2 separate regions of the Homo sapiens genome follow, and region 1 is linked to region 2. The links come from fine-mapping of genetic effects on gene expression. A gene starts in region 2. The other region holds a variant in brackets. All regions are shown on one strand. Distances are between the middles of the regions. Region 1 holds the start of PCIF1 (phosphorylated CTD interacting factor 1). Region 2 holds the start of NEURL2 (neuralized E3 ubiquitin protein ligase 2).

The links.
Region 1: its variant is fine-mapped to the expression of NEURL2 in lung (GTEx, PIP above 0.99). The same link has a PIP of 0.9 or more in spleen.

The regions. Positions count from the first base shown.
Region 1 is chr20:45,918,343-45,934,851 of GRCh38, reverse strand. PCIF1 (phosphorylated CTD interacting factor 1) reads right to left here and starts at 169. Exons shown (of 17, transcript NM_022104.4): 1 at 48-169. It overlaps LOC107985388 (pre-mRNA-splicing factor cwc22-like), which reads left to right. Exons shown (of 1, transcript NR_171669.1): 1 at 1-1,358. RefSeq lists enhancers at 1-167, 168-859, 1,119-1,268, 1,551-2,243, 7,248-7,542 and a silencer at 9,988-10,282. The variant GC/C (reference allele first, on the strand shown) is at 7,715.
Region 2 is chr20:45,886,588-45,894,587 of GRCh38, reverse strand. It overlaps NEURL2 (neuralized E3 ubiquitin protein ligase 2), which reads left to right and starts at 3,380. Exons shown (of 2, transcript NM_080749.4): 1 at 3,380-4,338; 2 at 5,715-5,954. The coding sequence starts at 3,597. The coding sequence ends at 5,830. It overlaps SPATA25 (spermatogenesis associated 25), which reads left to right and starts at 6,966. Exons shown (of 2, transcript NM_080608.4): 1 at 6,966-7,052; 2 at 7,443-8,000. The coding sequence starts at 6,998. CTSA (cathepsin A) reads right to left here and starts at 3,253. Exons shown (of 15, transcript NM_000308.4): 1 at 3,209-3,253; 2 at 2,826-3,019; 3 at 2,561-2,672; 4 at 2,265-2,315; 5 at 2,104-2,190; 6 at 1,708-1,863; 7 at 1,277-1,368; 8 at 516-600. The coding sequence starts at 3,019. RefSeq lists enhancers at 2,917-2,966, 3,206-3,915, 7,254-7,754, 7,755-8,000 and a silencer at 3,007-3,276.

The DNA.
Region 1 (16,509 bases), 36 kb before region 2:
ACCCTGGCGCGGCTCGCTGCGGGACCATGGCTTCCTGGGACTCTTACCTGCCCGGAGCGGACTGGAGGGGACGCGGCTACACGTTCTGCTCGACCGCCCGTTTTGCCGCCTCCGCCTCGCCCTCCCCAGCGCCGCTGCCGCCATCTTGTGTCCCGGGCCGGGACTCCGCGCTGCGCATGCGCTGGTACCGCCTCTGAGGGACCTCGCCGCGGCCGCGCCGCCATCTTGAGTGTGGCAGGGTCGGCTGGCTCCTCGCACCCAGCTTGCTTTCGGCCCCCTCCCCTTCTTCCCATCCGTCCCTGCTGTTCCTTGTGGCGCTGAGGAAGGGGAGACAGCTTTGTAGGCCTGCGGGTGGACTGAGGAAGGAATGAATTCACTGGCACGTCCCCGCCTCAGTTTCCCCCTCGAGCACACACGCAGGAGCCGGATGTTCGCGGTGGGCGGTGCGCGGCGGGGTTGGACTGAGCGTGCGCACTGGGGGGCGTGGGGGCTGTCTTAGAACCTGCGGGGGTCTCGGGTTCTGCCGCCGGCCCAGGGGAGGCATCGTGGTGACGTAGGCTCCGGACGTAGCAAGGACCTGGGTCCTGGCACCCGCGCGGCTCTGCCTCTTCCAGCCAGTCTCTTTCCCTCTCTGGGCCTTTGTGCTGCGTGGTGTCCAAATGTTAAGAAGCCCTGCCCCATGCCCGGGCTACATATACATCGAACCCAAGCTGTAAATGCTCTTGAGTAGAAGCAACTTAAACTAGCCTTCGGGGGCAAGTAATAGAGATGGCTTTCGGCAGAGTTGGGAAATCAACTAAATGCATTGTAGGGCCTTTCCAACATTGACATCTGTGGCCATTAGTTGCAGTTCAAAGCCTCACTGAGCCCTCAAACCAGCTACAGCGGGTAGCCTGGCAGGGAACTGGCAGCTGTGAGGTGCTCCTCATCCGGCTCCCTGCAGGATTCTTTTTGGTAGGAGCCTGCAGGCGTCCGAGTGGTAGCTCCACCCATCTCCGGTCTCCCCAGCAAGCATCCCTTCCAGTGCTAGCTTGAGAAGAGGAAAAGCTTGCCACCTGCTGTCAGACCGGCGCTTGTGTGGAGCCAGGGGCTGTAGGTACCCCGGCTGAGTAGCCTCTCAGATGTCCATGGTCCTGGCTGCACGCCAGCGTGGGGGCAGGCAGGCGGACGCTCAAGAAAAACGGAGGCACCGATATGAGTAGTAATTGAGAACGAGGGTTCATGATCCTCATCTGATTTCAATCCCTGCTCCTCCACCCAAAATGTGTGGCCTTGAAGGAGTTAACCAATTTAAATTTTAGTTTCCTCAGTGGAAGATAATAAATCCGCCTACCTCATAAAGGTTTGGTGAGAATTAACTCAGGTGATGCATGTGAAGTCCTCAGCGCAATACCTGGCGCTTCCTAAGTGCTGAATCGGTTAGCCGTGATCATCTCACAGTGGCATGAGCATTGCTCCAAGTAGATTTGAGCCCTCCAGAAATAAGCCAGCTCTATATAGGCACAGCAGTTCTGCCCTCGCAGAGCTTCTCGTTCAGATAAGAGGCCTGATGGGAAACCAGACTCCTGGGTCCTGTCTCAGTTCTGGAAGGGTGGGGGGCCAGCTTTGATTTATGCCTGCTGCCCTGGCATAATTACTAATATTGCCTCCTTTTTCAGAAGTGCCCTGCTTTGGGCCGGGCGTGGTGGCTCACCCCGGTAATCCCAGCACTTTGGGAGGCCGACGCAGGTGGACCACCTGAGGTCAGGAATTCAAGACCAGCCTGGCCAACACGGCGAAACCCCGTCTCTACTAAAATTACAAACATGAGCCAGGCCTGGTGGCGCGCGCCTGTAATCCCAGCTACTCGGGAGGCTGAGGCAGGAGAATCACATGATCCCGGGAGGCAGAGGTTGCAGTGAGTCGAGATCGCGCCACTGCACTCCAGCCTGGGCGACAGAGTGAGACTCCTGTCTCAAAAAAAAGTACTGCTTTGGGCAGTAAACTACGTGGTCGCTCTTGACCTACGGGATAACCAGTTTTCCATGCTCATGCCCCCCAGCTAGCCCGCGCTTTCACTAAAGTTTAAAAACCATGTAGTGATTATTACCCTTTTTTTTTTTTGAGACGAAATCTCGCACTGTCGCCCGGGCTGGATTGCAGTGGCGCGATCTCGGCTCACTACAACCTCTGCCTCCCGGGTTCAAGCAATTCTCCTGCCTCAGCCTCCCAAGTAGCTGGGATTATAGGCACCCGCCACCACTCCCACCTAATTTTATTTGTATTTTTAGTAGAGACGGTGTTTCACGATGTTGGCCAGGCTGGTCTCAAACTCCTGACCTCATGATCCGCCCGCCTCGGCCCCCCAAAGTGCTGGGATTACAGGCGTGAGCCACCGCGCCCGGCCTTTTATCTATTCTTTTATGTTTTCAAAGTATTTTCTCATTCATTGTTCAGATTCTCTTAATTGATAACCAAGATACCAAACATCCCAAGTGCCTAGTCTTCTGTTTTATCATGGAATTCTGTGAATTATTACCTAAATCTGCACATGAGCAAACAGGTTGGAGCGAGGGGCAGGGGCGAAGTCATTGTCCAGGTTCACACAGCCATCAACAAGTAACAAAACTGGGATTTTAAGCCCGGAGTTCTCAACACCAAAATGCAGGGCTGGTTCCATTAAACCACTCTGGCCTCCCTGTTTTGTGAAGAAGGGATCTAGATTCAGGCGATGTGACTGGTCTGAGTGGACACAGTGGCCCTGGATAGTTCAATCTTTTTTTTTTTTTTTTTTTTTGAGACGGAGTTTCGCTCTTGTTGCCCAGGCTGGAGTGCAGTGGTGCAATATCGGCTCACTGCAACCTCCGCCTCTAGGGTTCAGGCGATTCTCCTGCCTCAGCCTCCTGAGTAGCTGGTGTTACAGGCATGCGCCACCACGCCCGGCTAATTTTGTATTTTTAGTAGAGACGGGGTTTCTCCCTGTTGGTCAGGCTGGTCTCGAACTTCCCACCTCAGGTGATCCGCCCACCTCGGCTTCCCAAAGTGCTGGGATTACAGACGTGAGCCACCGCCTCCGGCCTGGATAGTTAAGTATCTTAAAGGTTTCTCTATCTCACAGTGTTCAGCACTGCTTTTCACCTGATACATGCCTCATCTTCTCCGTTTGCTCACTTTCCGCATGTCAAAACCAGCCTCTTCTCAGCTGGGTGCGGTGGCTCACGCCTGTAATCCCAGCACTTTGGGAGGCCAAAGCGGGTGGATCACCTGAGGTCAGCAGTTTGAGACCAGCCTGGCCAACAGGGTGAAAGCCCATCTGTACTAAAAATACAAAAATTAGCTGGGCATGGTGGCAAGCGCCTGTAATTCCAGCTACTCAGGAGGCTGAGGCAGGAGAATCGCTTGAACCCGGGAGGAAGAGGTTGCAATGAGCCGAAATCACACCATTGCACTCTAGCCTAGGTGACAGGAGCAAAACTCCGTCTCAAACAAAACAAAACCCAACCTCTTCTCACCATTCTAATGACTACCTTAAGAGCTGGCGTTTCCCACCCCTACCCCCCTTTTTTTTAGAAGCAGAGTCTCAGTCTATCTCCCAGACTGATGTGCACTCATAGCTCATTGTAACCTTGAACTCCTTGCCTTAAGCAATCCTCCTGCTTCAGCCTTCCAAAGTGCTGGGATTACAGGCATGAGCCACCACACACAGCCCAATTTTGTTTTGTTTTTTGAAAAGGAGTCTTGCTCTGTCGCCCAGGCTAGCGTGCAGTGGCGCGATCTCGGTTCACTGCAACCTCTGCCTCCCAGGTTCAAGTGATTCTTCTGCCTCAGCCTCCCGAGTAGCTGAGATTACAGGTGCCCGCCACCATGCCCGACTAGTTTTTTTTTTTTTTTTTTTTTTTTTTTTTGTATTTTTAGTATAGACGGGATTTCACCACGTTGGCCAGGCTGGTCTCGAACTCCTGACCTCAGGTGATCCACCCACCTCAGCCTCCCAAAGACAAATTTTTAAAACCTTTTTATTGTTAAGAATAGCATATGGGGCTGGGTGTGGTGGCTCACACCTGTAATCCCAGCACTTTATCCCAGGAGGCCTAAGCGGGCAGATCATGAGGTCAGGAGATCGAGTCCATCCTGACCAACATGGTGAAACCCCATCTCTACTAAAATACAAAAAATTAGCCGGGCACGGTGGCACGCGCCTGTAGTTCCAGCTACTCCGGAGGCTGAGGCAGGGACACCACTTGAACCTGGGAGGCAGAAGCTGCAGTGAGCCAAGATCGCACCACTGCACTCTAGCCTGGTGACAGAGCAAGACTCCGTCTCAAAAAAAAAAAAAAAATAGTGTATGATAGACTGGCACAGTAGCTCATGCCTGTAATCACCAACACTTTGGGAGGCCAAAGTGGGAGGATACCTTGAGGTCAGGAGTTAAGAGACCAGCCTGGGCAATGTAGCAAGACCCTGTCTCTGAAAAATGTTTTAAATAAAATTAGCCGGGCATGGTGGCATGGGCCTGTAATTCCAGCCACTTGGGAGTCTGAGGTGGGAGGATCACTTGAGCCCTGGACGTCGAAGCTGCAGTTAGCTGCACTCCAGCCTGGGCGACAGAGACCGTGTCTTAAACATAGCTGGGCGCAGTGGCTCATGCCTGTAATTCTAGCACTTTGGGAGGTGGAGGTGGGTGGATTGCTTGAGTCCAGGAGTTTAAGACCAGCCTGGGCAACATGGTGAAACCTGCGTCTCTACAAAAAACACAAAAATTAGCCAGGTGCGGAAGCACACACCTGTAGTCCCAGCTACTTAGGGGGCTGAGGTGGGAGGATCACTTGAGCCCAGGCGGTCAAAACTGCAGAGAGCTATGATCATGCCACTGCACTCCAGCCTGGGCAACAGAGCAAGACCCTGTCTCAAAAAAATGTATACAAAATAGACTGGGCATGGTGGCTCACGCCCGTAATCCCAGTACTTTGGGAGGCCGAGGCGGGTAGATCACAAGGTCAGGAGTTTGAGACCAGCCTGGCCAACATAGTGAAACATCGTCTCTACTAAAAATACAAAAAAATTAGCTGGGTGTGGTGGTGCATGCCTATAGTCCCAGCTACTCAGAAGGCTGAGGCAGGAGAATCGCTTGAACCTGGGAGGCAGAGGTTCGATGAGCCGAGATCAGACCACTGCACTCCAGCCTGGGCAACAGAGCGAGACTCCGTCTCAAGAAAAAAAAAAAAAAAAAGAATAGCACACATGGAAAAGTGCACAAAACATAAATGTAAAACCTAATGATTTATCAAAAAGTGAGCCTGGGTTAGCATCACCCATGCCATGGTACTGAACAGTCAAGCAGAAGACCTCTGCAGGGTAATTGGTGTTCCAACTACTTTTGTGATAATCGCTTCCTTGCTTTTGGAGTTGTACCACCTGAGAATGTGTCCCTAAACACTGTAGTTTCGTTTTGTCTGTTCCTTGAACTTTATGTAAATTGAATTATACAGTATTATTTTGTGTCTGCCTTCTTTTGCACAAGAATACACTTGCAAAACTCCTTTATGTTGTTTCATATAGCTGTGGTGAGTTCATTTTCATTGCTGTTTTTTTGTTTTCCACTGTATGTTTATCTACTCTATTGTTAAGGGATATAAGTGAAGCCTCCCACCTGCCATACCTCTCAATTTCTTTTCTAAAAATTATTTTTATTTTTATTTATTTTTTTAGACAGAGTCTCGCTCTGTCGCCCAGGCTGGAGTGCAGTAGCGCGATCTCAGCTTGCTGCAACCTCTGCCTCCTGGGTTCAAGTGATTCTTCTGCCTCAGCCTCCCAAGTAGCTGGGATTACAGGCACCCGCCACAACACCTGGCTAATTTTTGTATTTTCAGTAGAGACAGGGTTTCTGCATGTTGGCCAGGCTGGTCTCGAACTCCTGACCTCAAGTGATCTGCCCGCCTCGGCCTCCCAAAGTGCTGGGATTACAGGCATCAGCCACCGTGCCTGGCTTTATTTATTTGTTTATTGAGTCTGGCTCTGTCACATGGGCTGGAGTGCCATGGCACAATATCAGCTCACTGCAGCCTCCGCCTCCCAAGTTCCAGCAATTCTCCTGCCTCAGCCTCCCAGGTAGCTGGGATTACAGGCACACGCCACCACGCCTGGCTAATTTTTGTATTTTTAGTAGAGACAGGGTTTCACCGTGTTGGCCAGGATGATCTTGAACTCCTGACCTCAGGCGATCCACCTGCCTCTGCCTCCCAAAGTGCTAAGATTATAGGTGTGAGCCACCATGCCCAGTCTCTCTCTCTCTCTCTTTTTTTTTTTAACTAGAGATGGGGTCAGTATGTTGCCAAGACTATCTCTAACTTCTGGGCTGAAGCAATTCTCCCACCTCAGCTTCCTAAAGTGCTAGGATTACAGGTGTGAGCCACTGTGCTTGGCCATACCTGTTAATTTTCAAAGTGGCCTTCTGATCCTCCAGCCTTGCTTCTCTTCTAGTTCATAATCCACCAAGGAGCCACGGGGATCTGGCCATATAGCAAATCTCATCAAGTCACTCTGGGCTTAAAGCTCTTGAATGTCTCCCCATTGACTACGGGACAAAATCCCAAACCCTTAATTTGGCCTACAAAACCAGAATTATAATGAGCTACCATGGCAGAATATTTACTATGCACAACGTCAAGCACTTTACACACATTCATTTTATTCATGATCTGGACCTTCAAACCATCTCTTCTTGATCCAGTCCCAGCTACCATGAACTACTTCATAATTTCCCTAAATGTGCCAGGTTCTTTCATGACCCTGATCCTTTGTGTTTTTGTTTATTTCTTTCTTTGTTTTGTTCGTTTTTGAGCCAGAGTCTCCATTTGTATCCAGGCTCACTGTAGCCTTGACCTCCTAGGCTCAAGTGATCCTCTTACCTCAGCCCCCTAAGTAGCTGGGACTGCAGGAGCACACCACCACCACACCTGGCTCATTAAATTTTTTTTTTTTTTGTAGAGACAAGATCTCACTATGTTGCCCAGGCTGGTCTCAAACTCCTAGCCTCAAGGAATATTCCTGCTTCAGCCTCCCAAAGTGTTGGGATTTCAGGCATGAGCCACCGTGTCCAGCTCCTGAGTCTCTGCATATGCTGTTTGCCCTTACTCTTCTTCCCCTCTTGACCTAATTCAGCCTTCGAGTCTTAGCCTAGATGTCGCCTCCACCAGGCAGCCTTCCCTGAACTTCCTTCTACCCCGGCTAGGACAGGTTCCCTCTCTTGTACTACCACAATGGTCTAAGCTCATAATGTTTGTCAATTTTCCTCATCCACTAGGCTGTGCGCTGCTTAAGGGTGGGGCCTGGGGCTTATTCACCCTTGTAACCCCATGCTCAGTACTGTGCCTGACCCTCTGTAAATATTTGATGACCATGAACAGACCACTCTGGGTTGAAGTCTAGGTGGCTTTTTCAGGTAGCCCGTTTATTTATTTATTTTTTGAGACAGGATCTCCCTCTGTCGCACAGGCTGGAATGCAGTGGTGTGATCTTGGCTCACTGTAACCTCTGCCTCCAGGATTCAAGCGATTCTCCTGCCTCAGCCTCCGGAGTAGCTGTGACTAAAGGCACACATCACCAGGCCCAGCTAATTTTTGTGTTTTTAGTAGAGATGGGGGTTTCACCGTGTTGACCAGGCTGGCCTCGAACTCCTGACCTCAAGCAATCTGCCTGCCTCGGCCTCCCAAAGTGGTGGGATTACAGGCGTGAG[GC/C]ACTGTGCCTGGCCAGGTATCCCCGTTTCTATTCCAGGCTCTGGTTTCTGTGGTGGGAACACCAAGGCAGCACCCTGTGGGCTGCCTGCTGTGGCCGAGTCTCTGTCAGTAGCCTGGAGTCTTTTATTCCCAATATAGGGATGAGCAGTTGAGCAAAGATCCTAAGGCTTTCCATTTCTCCAGCTACTTTTCTGAACTAAGAAGCCTGGGTAGACAATAGGTCTGGGCTGAGAGAGGTGGTTGGAATAAGCTGGGCTCCTCTCCCTGGCACCAGGGCCGGCTGCATAGATTTAGAAAGGCCCATGCTTACTGGGTGTGGAGGCTCATGCCTGTAATCCCAGCACTTTGGGATGCCAAAGTGGGAGGATTGCTTGTGGCCAAAAGTTCAAGACCAGCATGTGCAACATAGAACCCCATCTCTACATAAAATAATAATAGTAATAATTAGCTGGGCATAGTAGGTGCTCCTGCAGTCCTAGCTACTTGGGAGGCTGACGCAGGGGGTGATTGCTTGAGTCCAGGAGTTCGAGGCTGTAGTGAGCCATGATTGCACCACTGCACTCTAGACCCTGTCTCAAAAAATAAAAACAAGATGAAAATAAAAATAATAATAAAAAAGAAAAGTCTGTGTTTGGTTTAATGTTCTACTGTCACCATCTTAAAAATCTTAATAATTTTGGAACAAAAGTCCCACGTTTTCATTTTGCCCTGAGCCCTGAATATTGTTTTTTGAGACAGCGTCTTGCTCTGTCACCCAGGCTGGAGTGCAGTGGTGCAATCTCGGCTCGCTGCAACCTCCCCCTCCCAGGTTCAAGCAATTCTCTTGCCTCAGCCTCCCCAGTAGCTGGGACTACAGGCACGTGCCACTGGGTCCAGGTAATTTTTAGATTTTTAGTAGAGATGGGGTTTCACCATGTTGGCAAGTCTGGTCTCACACTCCCAACCTCAGGTGATCCACCCACCTTGGCACCCCAAAGTGATGGGATTACAGGCGTGACCCATCATGTCCGGCCCTAGCCCTGAAAATTATGTCACCACTCCTGGCTGGTCACTAGCTGCCAGGGCCTCTGAGGACCCCTGCCTCAACTCCGGACAAAGCCAAGCCTCCACACTAAAGCAGAAACATAAACAACCAGCTCAGGTTGCCACATAGCTTAACCCCCTTGTTCTCTGCCACTGCAGCAAGAAGCTGCTGAGAGGGAACTTTCATCCCCTGAGGTCCTGGCAGCTGGGGAAGGGAGACTCTAGCTGGATCCCACTCCAGGTTGCCCCCGCCTAGGCTGGGCTTGAGCTGGCCATGGACCCTACACTGCAGTTTAAATTATGCAAAGGGAGTTTCCAAGGCAAGTGGGTCTGGCCCCCGGAAAGCTGTGGAAAGGAGGCTTCCACCCCAAACTGTGGTTCCCACAGGGAGTGGCTCTTGGGCCATTCTGGGACCAGATGAGAGAAGCCATTTAGGCCAAGAATAGATGAGAGGAATGGGGGCGTCTCCCTTGGTCTTCCTGGCCTTGGAAGCGTCTGATGTGGTGTACTATTCCCTCCATTTCTTCCCTTGGCCTGTCCTAGAGTCTTGAGAATAAGCGATAAGTAAGACGGACAGACGGTTTGTCTTAGGGAGCCCACAGAGCAGTGTGGGAGGCAGACATATACATGAACCCTCTGCCACAGGGAGATGAGGGCTCTGGAGGGATGGCAGGGGCTGGGGGTGGTGGGCACACAAAGGAGAAAGCTTCAGAGGAGATGACAATGAACAGATTCTTATTGGAAAAATAGATTTTCCAGGTAGGCAAGGAAAAGGGGAGGGCACAGCGTGTGCCAAGGCCTGGAGGTATAGAAAGGGAGGGTGTGTTTGGAGAGCTGGTCAACCTGAGCACAGCCAGGGAGCAAGGGAGGTGCAGGTCCTACCAGGACCCTGGAGTCCAAATTCAGTCCTTGCTCTGGGTTAGTGCTCAGCATCCCAGGCGGCGTTTGGTCATATCAAGATAGGGGTGGGCCACCTGTGGTGGTCCCCTCCACTCTCCCACCCATTCCCTGTGATGCGCTTTTTTTTTTTAAGACAGTCTTGCTCTATCGCCAGGCTGGAGTTCAGTGGCGCGATCTCGGCTCACTACAACCTCCAACTCCCTGGTTCAAGCGATTCTCCTACCTCAGCCTCCTGAGTAGCTGGAATTACAGGCACATGCCACCATGCCCAGCTAATTTTTGTATGTTTAGTAGAGATGGGGTTTCATCATGTTGGCAAGGACAGTATCAATGTCCAGACATCATGATCCGCCTGCCTCGGCCTTCTAAAGTGCTGAGATTACAGGCGTGAGCCACCGTGCCCGGCCGTGATGCTCATTTTTGCACTTCAGTCAGAGTGGCCAAGAGCCAGGATGTTTACTCCCATATGAGCTGAGTCTGCAGAATTCCAGACTTCTTCAAAAAAGAAACAAGAGCGACAGCTGGTAGCTTCCTGAAAGTCTGAGATCACAGAAAACTGACTTAGAAAGGAGAGAAAGGAGGACACCCCACCCAGCCTGGGTCCCAGCTGGGTTCCCAGGACACATCTAACCCAGAGATCTCAACCCGAGCTAGGAAAATGTTTTTAACAGCTTTATTAGGGTATAATTTACAGACTACAAGACTCACTTGTTTTCAGTATACAATTCTATCACGCCTGTGATCCCAGCACTTTGGGAAGCCACGGCAGGCGGATCGCCTGAGGTCAGGAGTTCAAGACCAGCCTGACCAACATGGCGAAATGCCATCTCTACTAAAAATACAAAATTAGCCAGGCTCAGTGGTGTATGCCTGTAATCCCAGCTACTTGGGAGGCTGAGGCAGGAGAATCCCTTGAACCTGAGAGGCGGAGGTTGCAGTGAGCTGAGGTCACGCATTGCACTCTAGCCTGGGCAACAACGGCAAAACTCAGTCTCAAAAAAAAAAAAATACAAAAATTAGCTCGGCGTGGTGGTGGGCGCCTGTAATCCCAGATACTTGGGAGGCTGAGGCAGGAGAATCGTTGAACCAGGGAGGTGGAGGTTGCAGTGAGCTGAGATCATGCCACTGCACTCCAACCTGGGAGAGATTCCGTCTCAAAAATAAATAAATAAATAAATACATATACAATTCTGGCCGGGCACAGTGGCTTACACCTATAATCTCAGCACTTTGGGAGGCTGAGGCAGGAGGACTGCTTGAGCCCAGGAGCTAGAGACCAACCCAGACAAGACCTTGTCTCTACTAAAAATAATAATAATAAGTAAATGAATAGGCCGGGCACGGTAGCTCACGCCTGTAATCCCAGCACTTTGGGAGGCTGAGGAGGGTGGAGGTGAGGAGTTCGAGACCAGCCTGGCCAACGTGGTGAAACCCTGTCTCTACTAAAAATACAAAAATTAGCCAGGTGTGGTGGTAGGCACCTGTAATCCCAGCTACTGGGGAGGCTGAGACAGGAGAATCGCTTGAACTCAGGAGGCGGAGGTTGCAGTGAGCCGAGATTGCACCATTGCACTTCAGCCTGGGGGAAGGAGAGAGACTCTGTCTCAAAAATGAATGAATAAATAAATAAATAAATAAAATTTGTTTTAAGTAAATGTATAGAGTTATACAATTGTCAACACAGTTCTGTTTTAGAACATTTCCATTACCCTAAAAGATTTCTTGGGCTTGTTTGCAGTCAGTTCCTGTTCCCACCATCAGCCCCCAGCAACCACTGGCCTGCTTTCTGTCCCTATAGAGCTGCCTTTTCTGAACATTTCATATAAATAGAATCACACAGATGTAGTCTTTTGCAGCTTGCATCTTTCACTTTGCATTATGTTTTTGAGCTTCATCCATTTTGAAGCATATATCAGTAGTTGATTCTTTTTTTATTGCTGAATAGTGTTGCATTATACAGATATACCATATTTTATTTGTTTACCAATTGATAGTTGAATTGTTTCCACCTTTTGGCTATTACGAATAACACTACTATCAACATTCATGTACAAATGCATTCATTTTCCTTTTCTGTGGGTAGACCCTTAGGAGCGAAATTGCTGTATGGTAAATTTGTGTTCAACTTTTTTTTTTTTTTGAGATGGAGTCCTGCTCTGTCGCCCAGGCTGGAGTGCAGTGGTGCGATCTTGGCTCACTGCAACCTCTGTCTCCTGGGTTCAAGCAATTCTCCTGCCTCAGCCTCCTGAGTAGCTGGAATTACAGGTGCCCACGACCATACCCAGCTAATGTTTTTATTTTTGGTAGAGTTGGGGTTTCACCATGTTGGCCAGGCTAGTCTCGAACTCCTCCTGACCTCAGGTGATTCGCCCACCATGGCCTCCCAAAGTGTTGGGATTACAGGCGTGAGCCTGCTGGAAGGTGAGGTAGAAGGGGCCTGGGGGTGGGTTAGGTCAAGGAGTCCCGATTTCTGCTCAGCCCACTGAGATCCTGTGGGGGCACCTCCCATGACCTTAGGCGTCTCTCAGGCCTCTGGGGAGATTAGGAAAGTATGACATTCTTGGCTGCAGACCAGCTCCAGATAACCCCGGCTAAATGCAAGGAAATGGGTGGTACCAGCAGAAAGCATAGAGCTTAGAGGCTCAGCCGGGGATTAGATCAGGGCTACAGAGTGCACCATAAAAGCTGCTCCTTCTGAAGGGTCTAGGGATGATAATAACACCCCATCTTGAATTCAACAAACATCTTTTTTTTTTTTTTCCTGAGATGGAGTTTCGCTCTCTTGCCCAGGCGGGAGTGCAGTGGTGTGATCTCAGCTCACTGCAACCTCTGCCTCCCAGGTTCAAGTGATTCTTCTGCCTCAGCCTTCCAAGTAGCTGGGACTACAGGTGTGTGCCACCACGCCCGGCTAATTTTTGTATTTTTAGTAGAGACGGAGTTTCACCATTTTGGCCAGGCTGGTCTCGAACTCCTGACCTCGTGATCTGTCTGCCTCGACCTCCCAAAGTGCTGAGATTACAGGCATGAGCCACCGTGCCCGGCCATCTTGAATTCAACAAACATCTATTGAGCATTTTCTGTGTGCCAGACCCTGTGCTGGGCACTGGACATATGGCCATGAATAAGAGTGGCAGGCTCCTGTCCCCGCCCTGGGGAGCTTGCAGTCTACTGGAAGAAACAGGCAATAAAGAATTAAACAAACAGAATGACAGGTAATGACACAGAGGGGGCCTCTTCTGTGGGGGTGACATTTGAGTAGGGATCTGAGTAACTCTGCATGGGTATGTGTGTGGGATGATGTGTCTGGTGGAGAAAAGAATTAAGGAAAGTCTGAGGCTGAAGGCACTTGGTGTGTTCCCAACAGTGGTAGAAGATGGGCTTGGAGAGGAAGGTAGGCAGGAGCTAGTTCACCTGCAGTGTTTCCAGAGGTCGTGGCCAGAGTCTGGGTTTTATTTTGTGTGTGATGGGGAGGATGTTGAGCAGGATAGAAAAATTCTATGATTCCCATTTTTAAAAATATCACTTAGATTGATGTAGAGAGGCTAGACCTACAGGAGAAATGGTGAGACAGGGAGATAAGGCAGGTTGTCCCGGTAACCAATGAAAATGGCTTGAAGTGGTGTTGGTGCTGATAGAGAGAATTGTATAGATGTGGGGCATCTTTTTTTTTTTTCGAGGCAGAGTCTCGCTCTGTTGCCCAGGCGGGAATGCAGTGGCGCAATCACAGCTCACTGCAGCCTTGACCTCCTGGACTCAAGCGATCTTCCCACCTCAGCCTCCCAAGTAGTTGGGACTATTGGCGCATGCTACCACACCTGGCTAATTATTTTTTGTAGAGACAAAGTCTCACTATGTTGCTCAGGCTGGTCTTGAACCCCTGGGCTCAAGTGATCCTCCCACCTCAGCCTCCCAAAGTGCTTTGATTACAGGCATAAGGTGAGGCGTCTTTTGGAGTTAGAGACACCGGGATTTGCTGATGTGGGGTATAACAAAAAAAGGAAGTCAAGGATGACTCCTATATTTTTGACTTGAGCACTGCATAAAGCTGGTGCCATGACCTGTGATGGGGAAGCTTGGAAAAGGAGCAGGATTTGGTACTTGCTAGGGTTGGGGGGGAGCTAAAATATGGATCTAGCTGGGTGGAAGAGAGGAAGAAGGCCAGAGGGCGGTGACATCCTCATGATTCCTGGCTAGGGGTTGGCAATCTTGTTAGACCAAAGCCTGGGTTATGCGGGGGACTCCTGCAGTATTAGGACACCTGGAAAAATTCGAGTTGCATTATGTTGACCACTTCTTGCAACATTTCAGCAAGCCCTGCAGAAAAGGGACAAGCTTAGGCTGAAGATGGTGGCCTATCCTTATTATCAAAGGAAAAAATCCCTTCCTTTGGGGCCCCCTCCCTTCACTTACTTTGAAATGTTGTGACTGGCTTATGAAATCCAAACATCTAGACAGAGCTGCTATGGATCCTCCACCTCTTCCTCAAAACAAGTAGAGGCTGGAAAGCCCACGTGGAGTATAAGGAAAGCACAGACGGTTAGGAGGCTTAGAGGACCACAGAAAGAGGTCCCCATGAGTCAGAGTCAGCTAGCAGACTGACAGAGGCATAGAAACTGGGAAGAAGGGTGGGATATGAAGAAGAAAAGAAAAGGGAAGTCAGAGAGAGAGTGAGCTGCCCAAGGCTGACATCCGAGCCCTGATGGAGAGGCACCAGGTGTGGGGATACAATGCCCTAGGACCGAGGACCCAGGGAAAGCAACACCTCATAAGGAACCTTAGAATCCTTGAGTTTCTAATCTGGAGGTGACTTCAGACACCAAGTGGCCTGTTCTTCACACAGAAAATGGACTGGCCTTCAAGGAGGAAATGGGAAAGAAAGAAGAAAACAACAGATCTCCCAGCTTTAGAAATCACGGAAAGTCAGTCCACAGCTTTGGCCTGGCTGAACTCAGCAAGCCCCAGCCCTTTTAGATTCCTTTTACCCATTTGGTAAATGTCCAGCCCTCACGCGGACTGTTTTGTCCAGTTGCATTCTGGAAACAGATGATCATTTCGCCTGTCTGGAGAGATGTAATCGGGGTCTTCCTGGCCTGAGATTTGTCCTCCTCAGATAATCCTCCTCTCATTCCAGCTGGGTCCCCTGTCACATGTCCCCAGGTGCACCCATGCTGACCAACACAGGCGCATGAGCTGCAGTGCTCATATGCTCAGGCAGAGTGAGGAGAAGGGGGTCACTCCCTGAGGGGTAGCTGGGGTGGGCGTTGGGGGTGGGGACTGGGCAGGAGAGGAGATGGGCTGACGCAGCTTCTCCAAGCCATGCAGAGATCCAAAGAAAACACAGCTGGAGGCACAGCGAGGGAGGAGGGGGCCAGAGCAGTGCATGTTGACATGTTGGGCAGCAATCCAGCTTGGCCTCCTGTGGTCAGTGGAGCCCGTGTTTACTTCCTTGGACCAGTTATTTCCTCGTACTGAACCTCAGTTTCCAAATCTGCAAAACAGGGCCAATAATAGCTATCTCAAGGCACTGCTGTGAGAGTTACATGGGATAATGAAAAAGAGAGAGACAGAGAGAGAAACCTAGTTACAAGCATAGGCTCTGGGGCCAGACTGACTTGAGCTTATAACTGCTGGGCCTCAGTTTCCTTATCTGTAAACTGGGGGTGAGGATACCTATCTTGTAGGATGTTATGAAGTGTAAGTGAGTTAATATGTGGAAGCACTTTCTGGCCAAGTGTGGTGGTTCACGCGTGTAATCCCAACACTTAGGGAGGCCGAGGCAGGCAGATCGCTTGAGGCCAGGAGTTTGAGATCAGCTTGGTCTACACAGTGAGATTCTATCTCTACAAAAAAATTTTAAAAGTTAGCTGAGCATGGTGGTACATGCCTATAGTTCCAGCTACTCGGGAGGCTGAGATGGGAGGATTACCTGAGCCCAGGGAGGATGAGGCTGCAGTGAGCCATGATCGTGCCACTGCCTTCCAGCCTGGGTAACAGAGTGAGACCCTGTCTCAAAAAAGCACTTTCTGTTTGTTAAGCAACTATGACAACTATTAATACTAATAATCAGGCCAGGCACAGTGACTCATGCCTGTAATCCCAGAACTTTGAAAGGCCAAGGCGAGAGGATCGCTCGAGCCCAGGAATTCTAGACCAGCCTGGGCAACAAAGTGAGAGCGCCCCACCCCGCCACCAAGTACTAGGTTCCACACTTTGTATACTTTATCACTTTAAATCCTCACTGCCACCCAGGGAGGTAGGTAAGTACTAGATCATCCCATTTTACAGATGTGGAAACTGAGGTTCAAAAAGTGTTTTTTTTTTTTAGAGACAGGATCTTGCTGTGTCACCCAGACTGGAGTTCAGTGGCACAATCATAGCTCACTACAGCCTCGAGCTCCTGGGCTTAAGCAATCCTCCTGCCTCAGCCTCCCAAAGTACTGAGATTATAGGCATGAGCCACCATGCCTAGCCCAGAAAGAGATTTTTCATTTCCTCTGGAACAGGGGTTGGTAAACTATGGCCTGTGTGCTAACTCCAGCTCCCAGCCTGTTCGTTAGATATTGTTTATGGCTGCTTTCATGCTAAAGTGTAGGGCTGAGCAGCTGCGATAGAGACCACAGGGTGTGGAAAGCCTAAAATATGTACACTTTGGCCTTTTCAGGAACAGCTTGCTGACATTTGTTCTAGAAAAAGGCAGAAGCAGGACTTTGCTATCCTGATTCCTTTACAGGAACAGCTTGCTGACATCTGTTCTAGAAAAAGGCAGAAGCAGGACTTTGCTATCTTGATTTCTTACCAGTATTGCTGTGCTGGGTACACAACTGAGGCTGGAAAGGCACTTCCTTCCTGTCCCTCTGAGTGCTGGGAAGCC
Region 2 (8,000 bases):
GTTGTCCCAAGATTTACTGCTCTTGGATTTCACCTCTTCACCCACTTTTTTTCACAGGTAGGGAAACTGAGGCTCAGTGGCAGGAATCTTCCCAGACCTGGGTCCAAATCCTAGCATCACTGCCTCCCAACACTGTGACTTCAGACAGTGATTTCAAAATTCATAGCCCTCAGTTTCCTTATCTGGAAAATGTGGGTAGTATGATCTCATTTGAGGGGGAATCTTGAAGCTTAAATAATCTACATAGACACAGTTCAGCACAGTGCCTGCCACGTTGCAGGTGTTTGATAAATGTGAAGAAGTCCTTTCTCCTCACGGAGGTTATGGGATTTGCCACCATAGGAGGTGGTGGTGGGAATACACACTTAGACACATGTCCCAGAGAACACTAAATTGCTTAAAGGTGCAAGAAAGCAATGAGGGACGGAGAACAAGGAGTCCCCAAGGAGGGAATGTGGTCCTGTTCTCAGGATTAGGGATGGGAGAGCTCATGCAAAGTGATGGCAGAACCTCACATTGGTCACGCATTCCAGGTCTTTGTTGTCATAGAAGTTACACTTGTTTTGAGAGCAGCAGTGGGTCTGGAGAGAAGACCAAAGCCTGTAGGAGATGAGAGTGAAAAGCGCATCAGCTGCTGGTGGGAAGAGGAAGGCAGAGGAGGCGAGCATACCCCCCACCTCCCACCAACCTCCCTGACCCTAGGAGACTGGGAAAGATATCACAGGGTGTGGTCTGTATGTCATCTAAGCTAGCTCCCAAAGAGGTGCCCCAGGGTCATACAGACAGGCCTCCTTAGTTCCTTTAAAATCTGATTTCTGGCTGGGCGCTGTAGCTCATGCCTGTAATCCCAGCACTTTGGGAAGATCATTTGAGGCCAGGAGTTCAAGTCCAGCCTGGCCAACACAGCAAAACCCCATCTCTACTAAAAATACAAAAAATTAGGCAGGTGTGGTGGTACGCGCCTGTAGTCCCAGCTGCCTGGGAGTCTGAGGCATGAGAATTGCTTGAACCTGGGAGGTGGAGGTTGCAGTGAGCTAAGATCGTGCCACTGCACTCCAGCCTGGGTGACAAAGTAAGAATCTGTCTCAAAAAAAAAAAAAAGAAAGAAAGAAAAACTGATCTCTATTCTTTGGCCTTTCAGCACTAGGTTCTTTCTGCAACCCACCTGCTGCTCATAAACCTGGGCTGGGCCTGTCATATCATGTGCCTGGAGGACAGACCTGAGATCATGTGACCTGCCTCACCCCAGAGATTGCCCAACTGCCCTATCCCATACCTGTTCCCCAGAAGGCCATGGTAGTAGGCAAAGTAGACCAGGGAGTTGTCATTCTGCTCATAGGAGGAGAGTCCATTGCCCACAGCCAGCCCCTGTGAAACACCCAGGGTGCTCAGCTCATGTGGAGGGCAAAAAGGAAGAGCCTCCCTCACCCTACCACCCAGACCTTCAGCAATCCGGAAGCTGAAACCCAGGGTGGTTTATGTAGGCCGGTGGGTATGAGAGGCCACTCAATGCAAAACACAGAGCTGGCAGCCTGACAGGTGAGTTTCCTGTGTGGGAGGCACACAGACAGACCTAGGGCAGCCGGTGGTGGGGAGGTTATGCAGGAAGCTGGGTTGGATGGGGACATTGACCAGTCAGTCTGACCTTGCTAACTGTAAGGCCACAGCCTCAAGCTACCTCCCTTCCCTCCTGCAGCTACCCTGCACCTGAAGGTTCATGCTGGGATCCTGCATGACCAGCACGGCCAGGGTGGGGATGTAGATGCCAGCATAGCTCTCCCCGGTCAGGAAAAGTTTGTTGTTCTTGTACTCCGGAAAGAGGCGGAAGAAATCTTGAAGGGCCTCAAAATTGCTCTGGGCGACCTGGGGATGGCAGAGCAAGACAGAGGGAATCAGGAAGCTTTGGTATTTGAACTGGAAAGAACTTCAGAGATAATGACATTAACCCACCCTATTTGTGCAAGAGGAAGTGACTGGCCACCATACCACAATAGCATATGACAGAGCGAAAAGTAGACTCCAAGGCCATGCTCTCTCTCCCAGCATCATGCCATGGATGGAGGACCGGGGAGCCTGGGGCAGATGGGCAGGCACCAGACTCACCTCAGTGTCATTAGTTGCATAAAACTTGTCATCGGAGTAGGAGAAGCCCACCCCAGCTGGGGACTCCAGGTATAACACATTGGCAATCTAGAGGGGAGGGAAAAATTAGCTAAATGCCACCCCATCCAAGTGCCCAGACACACCCACAGCTCCAGCTATACCAGATTCCAAGAATAGGGGTTGTACTCCAGGGTGACACCATCTGGCTGGACCTGAGGAGGAAAGAGATGGCTGAGTAAGTCCCAAGGGCCAGCTGGGTGGAGGGAAAGGGCCACCATGAGAGGCACTTTACATGTGGGTAAAACCTCTGAGAGGTACAGGCAGCAAAGCCAATGGCATAGAGGAAAATCCCGAGGCTTAGAAGGAAGGAAACTTTTTGGAAAATCACAAAGCCCCTCTCTCGCTTTCCCCAGCCTTTTACTTTGGGAACTGTGCTTTCCCCCTGCTGTCCACTCACCAGGAAGGGGCCATGCTCTGTGAGGAGCCCATCTAGTGAGCTGCAGCCGGGACCCCCATTGAGCCAAAGCACCACAGGGCTGTTCTCGGGATCCTTCTGGGACTCCACAAACCTGGGAGGGGGGTCAGGGCAGGGTTGGCGCAGTTGGAGGGGCCCTTTCCAGCCCTCCCGGCTCCCAGGCATCCTCAGGGGTCTGCAGAACTACCCCCCATCCCTCATCCGTCATCTCTTCTCCCAATCCCGCCCAGAAGGCAGGGCGGCAGACCAGTAGTGGAGGTGCTTGGAGCCGGAGCCTTTGAGGTAGCCGGAGTACTGGCGGAAAGACGGCTGCTTGGCCAGCCCGGGGAGGCGCTGGATCTCGTCCTGGTCGGGGGCTGCCTCGCCTCGGGACGCCCAGGACACTAGCAGCAGCAGCAGCAGCAGCAGCAGGAACAGCGGCGGCGGCGCGGCTCGGATCATCTACGGGAGGCAGCAGAGGGGCTGTTGACTCGCTCCTCAGCGCTTCCGTGCAGCAGCCCCCGGGGAGTTGCTGGCGGCGCCTCCGCGAGGGAAGCCCCGGCCCCAGCGCCAGCTCCCACCCGCGAGCCTCCTCTGCCGCGCACCGATCCCGGGCTCGGGGATCCCCTCCAGCCTCCGGTGCCAGCTCACCTCTGCTCCCCCGCGTCCTTGCTCTCCAGGAGGCGCCCGGGGACTGGAAGTCATGTGTACGAGTCACGTGAACTCCGGCGCCACGTGACAGTCTTCCTCCCGCCCCTTCTTTGGTCCCTACGGACCTGGGGGGCGGTGGCGGTCAATGCCGGGTCAAGGTCCGCGGGCCTCGCAGATCGTAGCCCGGGCGCACGCGATCAGATGATCCTGTTGTGGACGGCTAAGTTGTAGGCGGGATGGCTGAGAAAGCGGCGCTAGGACCCCCGGGCAGAGGCTCGGGGAAGGGAGTCAGGGGGGAAATGCCTTACAAGGTCGCCTTGCGGTCACCATCATTGCCCGCCGCCCAAAATAGCCCCCGGCGCCAGCTGGCCTGCCCTATGGCCGAGAGATGGCTGCTGCCTCCGAGCCCGTGGATTCGGGTGCACTCTGGGGACTCGAGCGCCCGGAGCCCCCTCCCACCCGCTTCCATCGGGTGCACGGTGCCAACATCCGCGTGGACCCCTCTGGGACGCGGGCCACACGCGTGGAGAGCTTCGCCCACGGCGTGTGCTTCAGCCGCGAGCCGCTGGCCCCGGGCCAGGTCTTCCTGGTCGAGATCGAGGAGAAAGAGCTGGGCTGGTGCGGACATCTGCGTCTCGGTCTGACCGCGCTGGACCCCGCCAGTCTGGCCCCCGTTCCCGAGTTTTCTCTGCCCGATCTGGTCAACCTGGGCCACACCTGGGTCTTCGCCATCACGCGCCACCACAACCGCGTGCCCCGGGAGGGCCGCCCGGAGGCGGAGGCAGCGGCCCCCAGCCGACCTCCAACCCTCCTCGTGGAACCATATCTGCGCATTGAGCAGTTTCGCATTCCCCGGGACCGCCTGGTGGGCCGCAGCCGGCCAGGGCTCTACAGCCATCTCTTGGACCAGCTCTATGAGCTGAACGTGCTGCCTCCGACCGCGCGCCGTAGCCGCCTGGGTGTCCTCTTTTGCCCGCGCCCCGATGGCACGGCCGACATGCACATCATCATCAACGGCGAGGACATGGGCCCGAGCGCCCGGGGACTGCCAGCTGCGCAGCCCCTCTACGCGGTGGTGGACGTGTTTGCTTCCACAAAGAGCGTGCGCCTTGTCCAGCTCGAGTATGGCTGTAGGTATCCCTGGGCAGCGACCCCTCCTGGCTCAGTGTGGGGACTGGAATCTACTAGGGCTCCGTAGCCCATGTGCTAGGCCTTCGTCTGTCCGGCACTAGTTTAAGAGTGGGAGAATCTAGCTTCAAATTGCACCTCTGCTTGTGATCTTGCACAAGCCTCTACATGGTTTTGGGCCTTGGTACCTATCTTGGTTGATTGATTAAGATGCCCTACAAGTTCCCTTTTAGTTTTGATAGTGTTTCCTGTATTCACCTAGGGCAGGGATTCTAAACCAATTTTAGATATTAGGGGCCTCTTTGAGAATTGTTTGCCCTTTTCTTAGAAACATGCTTGGCCGGGCACAGTGGCTCACACCTGTAATCCCAGCACTTTGGGAGGGGGAGGCAGGCAGATCACTTGAGGCCAGGAGTTCGAGACCAGCCTGGCCAACATGGTGAAAGCCTGTCTCTACTAAAAATACAAAAAGTAGCTGGGTGTGGTGGCATGTGCCAATAATCCCAGCTATTCAGAAGGCTGAGGCAGGAGAGTCACTTGAACCCGAGAGGTGGAGGTTGCAATGAGCCGAGATCTCACCAGTGCACTCCAGCCTAGGCAACAGAGCAAGACTCTGAAAAAAAAAAGAAAGAGAGAGAGAGAGGAAGAGAGAGAAAGCAAGCAAGCAAGCAAGCTAGCTAGCTCAAGCCTGGGCAACAAAGTGAGACCCCATCTGTACAAAAAATTAAATAATTATCTGGGCATGGTGGTGCATGCCTGTAGTCCCAGCTATTTGGGAGGCTAAGGCAGGAGGATCGCTTGAGCCCAAGAATTGAAGGCTGCAGTTCACTGAGCACTGCACTTCAGCCTGGGTGACAGAGCAAGACCCTCTCTCTTTAAATAAAAAAAAAAAAAGAAAGAAAAGAAAGAAACATGCTCATAGACTTGGGCATATTGGCTATTGGCTTCGAGGCATAACAAACCCCAGACTGAGAGCTTCTTAATGCTGAGTATGATTCATTATAGCCCTGGTAAGCATTGCAGTTATACCTCTCATCACATTTCATGAACTCAATGCACCAGAACCCTCTTTGTGCCAGGCCTGTGCTGGAGGCTTCAGTTGCACAGGCAAATCAGACACTACCCCTGCCCCCAGAAGCTGCTAAGTGAATGGGGAAGGGATTGTGCTAAGTGTTATGATATAAACAGGGCTGCAGCTTTGTGGCAGCTCTCAGGAAGAGGTGCTTCTCTCAGCCCCATGAAGCAGGCTGGGCCCAGAGAGCAGTAAGGACTTGCCCACATTTAATGACAAAGTGGGGACCATGACCTAGACCTTCTGGATCTTGGCCTCAGACCCACCCTCCAGTTCAGTTTGCCTTTCACAGTCTTCTTCCCACAGTGCCATCCCTGCAGACTCTGTGCCGCCTAGTGATACAAAGGAGCATGGTGCACCGGCTGGCCATTGATGGGCTCCACCTGCCCAAAGAACTTAAGGATTTCTGCAAGTATGAGTGAAGACCCACAGTGCACCAGAGCACAGCTGCATCCTGGAGCCCCAGACCTGTGGCTGGCTGGTCCGAAGTTGGCCACATTGCTGCCAGCCAAGACCAGAAATAAACAGCCGATGCTGACATCTTGATCACTGGAAGGTCTCCTTGCCCCTACAGCCTATGAGAGTCACTTCGTTTAGAATCACTGCAGGTCAGCAGGTCGGAGCAAAAGAGCAGGGGTCCCTAGGCTGGCTGCTTGTTAGAGTCATCTTAGGATATGTAAAGAGTGCTGGTGTCCCACATCCCATCCCTAGGGATTCGTATTTGATTTGTTGGGAAATTAGGCCTAGACATTGTGTTTTGTAAAAGCTTCTCAAGAGATTCTCATGTACAGCCAGGGTTGAGAAGTATGTCCCTAGAAAAAAGGTTCCAACTTTGTCATATATTATAATCACTTGAGGAATTTTGAAAAATACCAATACCTGGCCTGTAATCCCAGCACTTTGGGAGGCCGAGGTGGGCAGATCACTTGAGGTCAGGAGTTTGAGACCAGCCTGGCCAACATGGTGAAACCCTGTCTCTACTAAAAATACAAAAGTTAGCCAGGTGTGGTGGCAGGTTCCTGTAGTCCCAGCTACTCGGGAGGCTGAGGCAGGAGAATTGCATGAACCCAGGAGGCAGAGGTTGCAGTGAGCTGAGGTCTTGCTCCTGCACTCCAGCCTTCCAGTCATGGCGACAAAGTGAGACTCTGTCTCAAAAAAAGAAAAAGAAAAATACCAATACTGGGTCTGACCCGAAGTCTTACTCTACAAGGCACGAAGCACTTGGCTCCTGTGTTTCCATCTCTGGTCATCTGCTTCCATACAAATGATCTCATTTCATCCTCAAAACTCCTAATGAGGTAGTGGGCAGTCATCAGACACACTTTACAGATAAGGATATCAAGGAACAAAACTATCTGGGTGACTCGTTCAAGGTTAGGGCAAGAACCTAGAACACCCAGCTCCTGGTCTGGTGCTCTTTTAACCTCATCCTATTGTCATGTCCAGGTTCTAGAATGAATAGGTCAACGCTGTAAAGTGGATTCCAAGTGTGAAGGGGAGGGTCTATGAGGTGACATTCTAGAAGGGTGAAGAAGGGAGGACAGGCGGCAGATCACTATTCCCTCACAAACCGGGGCTTTGGGGAAGCCATGTCCTACTTCAGGACTCCACAAACTCATCCAGGTCCTCTGCCTTCCGGCCAAGGTGAGCGGGGGGCACCTGCAATTGGAGGGAGTGCGGCAGCTTCCCCTGAGAAGTTGCTTTCTGGCTCTGGGGAGGTGGCGGTTCTGCTGGGCATTTGGGGGCTGGCCCTAGAATCAATTCTTTTAGAAGAAAAGCCATTCCAAACATCCTTGCCAATCAATAACTACCCGCTTGCTCACTATTCATTAATTCAACAAACGCTTCTCCATCACCTACTCCGTGTTGGGGACTGGGAGTGTGGATATGAGTAACACCTAGTTCCCAACCTCTAGACAGTCCGCTGGGGCTGGTCTTAGTTACGCCCCCAAGCTCTGCTCCCATGCCCTGCCCCTCAGGGCCCCCTCCTCAAAGAACTGAGAATAACGTTCCATTTCATTCCTGTCTCTGCAGGTGGGGCTGCTTCTCCAGGCTTGTCCCTTGGCCTCTGTAGTCCTGTAGAGCCAGTGGTGGTGGCCTCTGGTGGAACAGGCCCACTGAGCCAGAAAGCTGAGCAGGTGGCACCTGCTGCCCAGGCCTGGGGCCCAGCCCTGGCAATGCCACAAGCCAGGGGCTGCCCTGGGGGGACTAGCTGGGAGACACTACGGAAGGAATACAGCCGAAACTGCCACAAATTCCCGCATGTGAGGCAGCTGGAGAGCTTGGGCTGGGACAATGGCTACTCCAGAAGCAGAGCCCCTGACCTGGGTGGCCCCAGCAGGCCTAGGCCCCTGATGCTGTGTGGGCTGTCACCACGGGTTCTACCGGTACCCTCTGAGGCAGTGGGGAAGGAGGCCAGCTCCCAGCCTGATATCTGCATCCTCACCCTCGCCATGATGATCGCTGGCATCCCCACCGTGCCCGTCCCAGGAGTTCGGGAAGAGGACCTGATCTGGGCCGCTCAAGCTTTCATGATGGCCCATCCGGAGCCAGAGGGTGCTGTGGAGGGGGCGCGGTGGGAGCAGGCACATG